2 linked regions of the Homo sapiens genome follow. The protein of the gene in region 1 purifies or fractionates together with the protein of each later gene. This does not show direct contact. Each region holds a gene or a part of one and is shown in the gene's direction. Other genes may lie near its edges.

Region 1 (4,097 bases):
TGGTGATATATTGACAGAGCTGGTGGATTCATCAGAATGTGGGAATGTTCCTATTTTTATTCTACACTTCAGCCTGCCAGTTCAAATCCTTCCCAGTTCAGCTCCAAAGCAGCCCCTCTCCCATCACTCAAAGGCCATCCAATTCCCATTCTCACAGTTCCTCAAGACAGAAAGGATCCTTCAACTCCATGGCCCTTCATCAGCATATATATATATATATATATATATATATATATATATATATATATATATGTATTTTTTTTTAAATTGGAGATGGGGTCTCACTATGTTGCCCAGGCTGGTCTAGAACTCCTGGGCTCAAGTGATCCTCCTGCCTCGGCTTCCCAAAGTGCTGGATTATAGGCTTGAGCCACCACGCCAGCCCATCAGCACATCTTTAATTGCATTTTTCCACAGTCTTCCTTAAGTAATTCGTTTTCATGAACTATCTTTTCTTTTAGACTGGGTTTGCTGAAGGGAGCGGAGGCTCCTGTCTTCCATTTCAGTCATGTCTTACTAGACACTAAATAGAGGTAAATTACTGAATGCATTCAATCTGCATCAAGCCTCCGGTAGTCCTACAGTAACTGGTATCCCTCCCCTCCCCAGAAAATAATATTTTGTTTTATTAATGCTGGCTACAGCAGAGTCTGGTTTTCTTAAGAGTTCCTGCAAATCACAGGTTCGTCCTTTAACTTTGAGACCCAGGGAAGGAGGGAGCAAGGGAGGGAGGGAGGGAGGATGCTGTCAAGTCCGCAAAAATATGGACAACCTCAGAAACCTATAAACAGAAATATACTAACATGGTATATTTCTTACTTTTAAGGCCCTGAAATTATTAATTTTCCTTTCTTCTTTCTATGCGATTTTGGTTTCCAAATGTGTACATTGAGCAGGTATTGTTTTATGATTAGGGCGAAATTGCTGCTGCTGCTGCTGCTGCTGCTGCTGCTGATTACAAAAAATAGGCTGCAAGCAAGCCGTGCTTCCATTTAAAAGCTCCTCTTTGTTGCCTCGACAAGCAAGGGGTACTCGATAGCACTTTTCGGTTAGATTCTAATAGAAAGAAAGCTTTAAATTTCTCTCTCGGAAGCACTTTGTCAGCCAGGGTTTTCCCTCTCGCCCACCCTGCAGTTAAGGAAATCTAAGAGGTGGAAGTGGGGCGGGCTGGAGGGCCACAGACAGCCGCTGACCCAGACGCCCCATCTCCCGCCCCAGGGCGAGGGTGCGCGCTGTCGCTTATTGGCCAGCAGGGTCCCAGACCTTGACCAATCGCCTGGGGCCGGGTCGTCATGGCGACGCGCCACGCTAACGCATGGTGTCGGAGGGAGGCCCACTTGCTGAACAGCAGGGAGCGATGGCGCAGAACGTGTATGGTCCGGGAGTCCGGATAGGCAACTGGAATGAGGATGTCTACCTGGAGGAGGTACGCAGGGTGTGGCCAGGCGCAGACCCGCAGCTCAGGAACTCCCAGACCCTGCTCTAAGTTCAGTCTCCTACTTTGAGCGCCTCAAGCCTCCTCTCTCTCCCAGCATACAGCGAATACCTCTAAAATCCCCCACTTCTCTAAACTCCCAAGGAATCTCACCTGCCGAACTGCAAACCCAGGTCTCACTGACCTCTACTCCGAGCACCCTGACTTTTCTTTCTCTGGGTCCCTTGGCCTCCCAAAGTCAGATGCCTTGACTCTCAAGCCCCTGGCCTGTGTCTCCCGCTTAGTCTAGAGCCCCACTAAGTCCCCCGTATTCCTTAGAGTCTTACAGTCTCAGGCTGCGGGCCAGGTGAGGACACAGGTTCTAGGTAGAAATAATATCCCTCCCCACTCCAACCCTGCCACGCTTGCCCTCTTAAATGACCCTGAGTATTCCTTTTATTGACGTTGTACTCACTCACTGCCTCGTATTCTCCCAAGGGTGGTCTTAACAAGGCTTTGAGCCATTCGTATACGGGTCAGATTGGGGAGGGGTGAACTTTCTAGTGTCAGTCATCATACGGTCAAGGGAAACCCCAGCAGGGGAGACATGGCCTCCAAATGTCATTTAGGATGGTATCTGGCTGGAGTAATTACTGGTGATGTTTCTTTTTCTTTGTTTTGCCTTTCTCATTTTTCTAAACATTCTATAATGTAGTAAAAATATTAAAGTAGTGCTAAAAACGTTCCATCATTCCAATTATGCTCACATCTCTTTTTTTGTACTCAAATTTTGCTTTTTCAACTTGGAAGAGCTTCTGACCTAAAAGTTATTAATACTAACATCTATATTATTCAGGGCTACTTTTGTTGATTTTCTGTTTAGGAGCTCATGAAAGACTTCTTAGAGAAGAGAGACAAGGGGAAACTTCTCATACAGAGAAGTAGAAGACTAAAACAGAATCTCTTGAGACCGGTAACTTTTTTTTTTTTTATTACACTTTAAGTTTTAGGGTACATGTGCACAACGTGCAGGTTTGTTACATATGTATACATATGCTATGTTGGTGTGCTGCACCCATTAACTCGTCATTTAACATTAGGTATATCTCCTAATGCTATCCCTCTCCCCTCCCCCCACCCCACAACAGGCCCCAGTGTGCGATGTTCCCCTTCCTGTGTCCATGTGTTCTCCATTGTTCAATTCCCACCTATGAGTGAGAATATGCGGTGTTTGGTTTTCTGTCCCTGCGATAGTTTGCTCAGAATGATGGTTTCCAGCTTCATCCATGTCCCTACAAAGGACATGAACTCATCATTTTTTATGGCTGCATAGTATTCCATGGTGTATATGTGCCACATTTTCTTAATCCAGTCTATCGTTGTTGGACATTTAGGTTGGTTCCAAGTCTTTGCTATTGTGAATAGTGCCGCAGTTGGTGGGACTGTAAACTAGTTCAACCATTGTGGAAGTCAGTGTGGCAATTCCTCAGGGATCTAGAACTAGAAATACCATTTGACCCAGACATCCCATTACTGGGTATATACCCAAAGGATTATAAAACATGCTGCTATAAAGACACATGCACACGTATGTTTATTGAGACCGGTAACTTTAAATTCAGACATTGTTTTCAAAATTCTGTTGAACTTGGTGTGAGTATATGTTAAGCAAGAAAAAAATTTCATAACTGAGTTACCATTTGGAAAATAACAGTTTTTAAAAACAATTTGCAATGTTTTAAATTCTTCTAAGATTTTAGAAACATAAACAGTCTGCCCTAAATCATGTTTACCTGCATTTTACAAATAAAGAAATAAATGAGTTAATATGTAAATAAGTAAAATGCCCCTTAGTTGGTAATCGACAAATTTTTCAATGAATGTTGAATTTCTAGGATAATGAGTAAATCCATGTGATTTTAACCAGCTTTATTCGACTTCATTTGGAATTATTGGGAGCTTTGCCTTGGCAAAGGGGAAGGGAAAGGAAGAAGGAACTAAGGGTTCGAGGGAATCCAAGTGAAATCCTGAATGAAATGGGTACTAGTCCGAGAAGGAAGAAAATTGCCTTGGCAGTAACTGTTGAGGAATTGCATGGTTTATGTAATAAACTACTATCAAAATTGTAGATGCAACTTTCCGTAACTGAAGATGGCTATATTCATTACGGTGACAAAGTGATGCTTGTGAATCCTGATGATCCTGACACAGAAGCTGATGTGTTTCTGCGTGGGGACCTGAGCCTGTGTATGACTCCAGATGAAATTCAGTCCCATCTGAAAGACGAATTAGAGGTACCCTGTGGCCTGAGCGCAGTTCAAGCCAAGACCCCAATTGGCAGAAACACTTTTATCATTTTGAGGTAAAGAGACTTTAATTTTCAGTTCATTTTCATCATAAATATGTTTCACTTGTAGCTTAAAGATTCCTGGGTATTGGAGCCACTGAGTGGAGGGAAAGGTTTTGTGAACATTTTTCGTGATTTTCATCTTGCTTTGCTTACCTTGAGAATTATTGTCAAAGGAACTTTACAATCCCTTTTTACCTTAGACAGCAGGATAATTGTGTTCAATTCAAAATGCTTAAATCATGAGTATAGGATCCAGGGAATTAAATCCATATTCTGCCTGGAAGCAAAGTAGGTTTTCCCTATAACATTTTGGAACTTTTTGAGCTCATTTGA
Region 2 (4,269 bases), on another chromosome or scaffold:
TCAGATTCTGCCCAGAATGGAAACTCTTTCAGAGTTTACTTTTCATGACATCTATGTAAATTCCTTTCAGATGGCCTTTATTTCCTGCATGTAAACTGCTTGCAGATTAGAAGTCATAATCAAAGACGAAACGGTAATCCTGTCTCAAGTTAGTAACTGGCATCTTTGAGGAAGTAGACATTGGATAACATCTATTCCAATATATCTGTACCACACAGGAGTCAACCCCTTTTGGAGTCATATTTCTTGAAACGATGGTAGTTTATTTTAGCTTTTGTCAGATTTCTGTCTTGGTATTTCCTATGGAAATCAAACAGTAATTTTTAGACAATAAGGGTTCATATTGGTATATCCTGAATTAGTATTTTTTTGTTGTAAATCTTGTGGCCATCCTGAACTTAACACTTTTTAAATTGTGGATTTCCAATTATTTTTAGAGGTATTGATAAATCTTGTTCATATTCCTGTGAGAAGAGGACACAACTGAGTAGGAGGGGAAATGACATAGTCAGGAATTGATTGTTCCCAATACTTTTATTACAGGAGTTTTCTACAGGATCACAATTGAATTTATTTAATTAAGAGTAACTGTTGGTGATGTCCCAGTCATTTTTAAAAAAATCGAAGTACAATTTTTTTTTTTTTTGCTATTCGGAAATCAGATCTCACATGTCAGTTTACCATCTAAAGTCTACCTTCAGCTTTGCGGTCACTTAAGAAAACATACACTTAGGACCAGGAGCAGTGGATTGGGCCTGTAATCCCAGCGCTTTGGGAGGCCTGAGGCAGAAGAACTGCTGAAGGTCAGGAGGTGGAGACCAGCCTGGGCAACACAGCAAGACCCCCGCCTCTACAAAATAAACTTAAAAACAAAGCAAAACATTTGCCGGGCATAGTGGTACGCAACTGTACTCCTTACTACTCCGGAGACTGAGGCGGGAGGATCGCTGGAGCCCAGGAGTTGGAGGCTACAGTGAGCTGAGACTGCGCCACTCCACTCCAGCCTGGGCGACAGAGCGAGGCTCTGTTTCTAAAAATAATAATTTAAAAGCACATTTAGGAAGCTCGGCATCATTCCAATGTCTGGGTCCGAAAGCACTATAAGGCAGCAAGACACACAAGGTATCAAGCGTAAAAAAGAGAATTTAGCATCCCGGTGTGGATTTTCCCAGGCAAAAACGTGGCCTACGCTGGGTGCAGGGACCGTGCGGAACCGGCAGGTGCTTCCCGGTTGAGGACGCAAAGCAGCGGGAGCCCGGGGTCGCCGAGGGTCCGCCTGGGCTTAAGCAGCTCAACGAGGGAGGGCTCACCGGCCCGCGCACTTGCAGAGACGCGGTCCCAGCGACTCCGCAACTAGACCGTGGCCCCGCGAACTCCAGCCTCTTCTCGGCTCCGGGAGGGGCGGAGTGAGCGCGGGAGGGGGCGGGGCCACGCAAGGCCGCGCGCCCGCCGCTCGGCTCGGCTCGGCTCGGCTCGCTCGGTTTCGGGGTGCGCGGCGCGGGTCCGCCAGGCTGTGGCTACAAAGCCGCGGCGGGGCGCGAGCGCCGCAGGTGACCGGGGCTGGGAGCTGCGTGCGCGGGCGGCGGCTGAGGAGCTGGAGGCGGGCCCTCGCTCTCGGCCCAGGCGCTACGGGCTGAGGAGACTAGGCGAGCCGAGGCGGGCGAAGGGCTCTGGGCATCCACTTGACAGCCGGCGGCGCTCGCGGCCCTCAGCATGTTCCGCGAGGCGAGGGTTTTCCTCCCGCCTGTGGGCTGAGGCGGCGGCGGCCCCCGAAACGAGATGCACCTGACGGGCGCGGCTTAGAGGACGCGGCTGGCGGGAAGTCCCGGCAGCCAGCGGGAGGGCTTTCGTTGCCGGGCCGCCGCCGCCTCCCGTCGCCGCCGCGGGCCCGAGCGGGAGCGGCGGGTGGGCGCCCCGACATGGCGGCCCGGAGCGCCCCGAGCTGCCACCTGCGGCTCGAGTGGGTGTACGGCTACCGGGGCCACCAGTGCCGCAACAACCTCTACTACACTGCGGCCAAGGAGATCGTATACTTCGTGGCGGGGGTCGGCGTGGTGTACAGCCCGCGGGAGCACAGGCAGAAGTTCTACCGGGGCCACAGCGACGACATCATCAGGTACCGGGGAGCGGGGGCCGCCGCCGTCACCCTGCAAGCCGCTCCCGGAGTTTGCACCCGCGGGTTCCTCTGGACGCCGTGACCGCTCCTGCACGGAGCATCACCCCGAGGGGAATCCGCAGCTGTCTCTCTGGTCCCGAGTCCACCAGTTAACACCCTACAAATGCCTTTCCCCTCTTCCTCGTCTAGGGACTCTCTCTCGGGTCCGTGCAGGAAGATCAGGTCCGCGGATCCACCGGGCACCCGGTTTGACGGCTTTGTCCCCTTTCCCACTCCATCACAATTACGAAAACTGCGAAAAGGTTATTTTGGTGGCACTTTATTCCGTTAGATCCTGTGAGAAATTTCTTATTAAACGCATTCTTAAAGCACCCGGGGTGGGGGGAAACCCTTTACCTAATAAAGGACTGATGGAAGCACAGCAAGCGGTGGGCTGCTCCCGGGGAGCGCGCCCAGGGTGGCGTCCTGAAGGGCTCTCACCTCCTGGCCGTAATTATTAGTTCAGGTTTCACCGCCTGCTATAATCAGCAGAAACCCCAGGCAACCTCCAGGCAATTCACTGGATGTTAAAATGTGCACACCTGAAGGCAATTTAAGGTAGGTCTTATCTGAAGAGGCTGCTGAAAACTTCACTGATTTCCAGTTCTCTTCATCTTCATTAAAATACTCCTAAATAAGCTACTTTTGTATTTTCTTAAAATTAAATCGCTATTGGGGGGCTATTTTTAGTCTTCCTTGGACAATAACTCAAAGTTGGTCCCAGAGCTTGTTGACATTTCTTTAGTGAGCGGTATATTTGAAATGTAATTTTCAATCAGTGTCTTAGTACAACTTTTATGGTAAAGTCAAGAGCTTCAGAAATCATTCTAGGCCACTGATTATTGCCTCAAGCACAGCATTTTTTGTCCTTTACAGAGGAAAATATATTAAAAGCAATTGAGAATGTGTTTGTGTGGTGCTCTTGGGGTTTTATCAAAGATTCTACGATTTGGGTTTGGTTACAAAATGTTATTCCCTCATGTATGTTGCACAGGATTTAAATTGGGCATTTCAAATACGGTACCTTGGTTTGAAGTCTTGTAGGCAAGAAGCCCTGGTATGTAAATTCCACAAATAAAGTTGTTCTTCTGTTTTGCGTCTCTGTACATCTATAATATGTAAGAGGGAAAGGATGCCTAGGACAAACAGAGGTAGGGCAAGATGGAGTAAAGATAAGAAAAGACAAAATTGAGATTGCAGAGTAAGGAATGAGGTGGTGCTCTGTATTCAGTTGGTTTTTTTTGTTTGTTTTTGTTTTTTGGACACCAGAGTGCTTTTTCAGATTGTATTTAATGTATTACTTTGAAAAGGTAACTGATAAGTCATTTCATTTTTCTCAAGCTGGGACTCTGTATCGTGGTGATTAGGGTTACAGACCTATTATAATAGCCCAAATTGCTGATGGAAAAACAAAACTAAAGTAAACCCGTAGTAATTATTTATCTTCTTAGTTATCCCAAGAGTAGAGTTTACCCCAGTGTCTTGTCTTTTTCCCTAATCCTTTCAAGTCTCCCTTCTTTTCCATATGCTAGGTCTCCCAAAGTACCAGGCATAGTAGCTTTACCTAGCTGGAGCAGCCTTAACTGAAGCCCTGCTCCAGATAATTTAGTCTGTTAGGTTGAATTCAGCTGGTGGAGTAAATGTGAAGGATTTTGAGGTCTTCTCGTGGTACACTTGTATTGTTTTTACTCCTTGGGGGTTATGAGAGCAGTATAGCACTAAGGTCTTCTGAAACTAGATATGATTTATTTGGTGAGGTAAATTACATCTTGTTCTTCTAGCAGTAATTAGAAGCTGTGTTATATGTCACACCGCTTAAATTTCATAATTGTGTTTCAGTAAACTGTAAGGAAGGTAATGCTTTGACTTTCTTTTGGTATAGTTGCACAACTTATACAAAACAACAAACATACTCGAATTTCTCATCGTTGAATATACATGCTTATGATTTTATCCAAATGACACATCTTTAATGTATAACAATGAAAATAAGTTTCCTGAAAAGTTTCAATGAGGGAGTAAAATCTGAATCATACAGCATCTTGAAATTGGTGGCACAAATTTAATATGATACTGAGAATATAATTTAGGAATCAGTGAAAGGGCTCTGGACA

The links.
Region 2: the proteins of CFAP161 (region 1) and EML5 purify together in Homo sapiens (affinity purification with mass spectrometry, with the first as the bait; one large-scale study listed by BioGRID). This does not show direct contact.

Annotation. Positions count from the first base shown.
Region 1 is NC_000015.10:81,132,973-81,137,069, forward strand, and holds the start of CFAP161 (cilia- and flagella-associated protein 161), read left to right. Parts: upstream 1-1,297; 5' UTR 1,298-1,357; coding exon 1,358-1,426; intron 1,427-2,297; coding exon 2,298-2,387; intron 2,388-3,543; coding exon 3,544-3,776; intron 3,777-4,097. UniProt on the Homo sapiens protein: Microtubule inner protein (MIP) part of the dynein-decorated doublet microtubules (DMTs) in cilia axoneme, which is required for motile cilia beating.
Region 2 is NC_000014.9:88,790,154-88,794,422, reverse strand, and holds the start of EML5 (echinoderm microtubule-associated protein-like 5), read left to right. Parts: upstream 1-1,469; 5' UTR 1,470-1,919; coding exon 1,920-2,116; intron 2,117-2,145; exon of another isoform or gene 2,146-2,687; coding exon of another isoform or gene 2,688-2,713; intron 2,714-4,269. UniProt on the Homo sapiens protein: May modify the assembly dynamics of microtubules, such that microtubules are slightly longer, but more dynamic.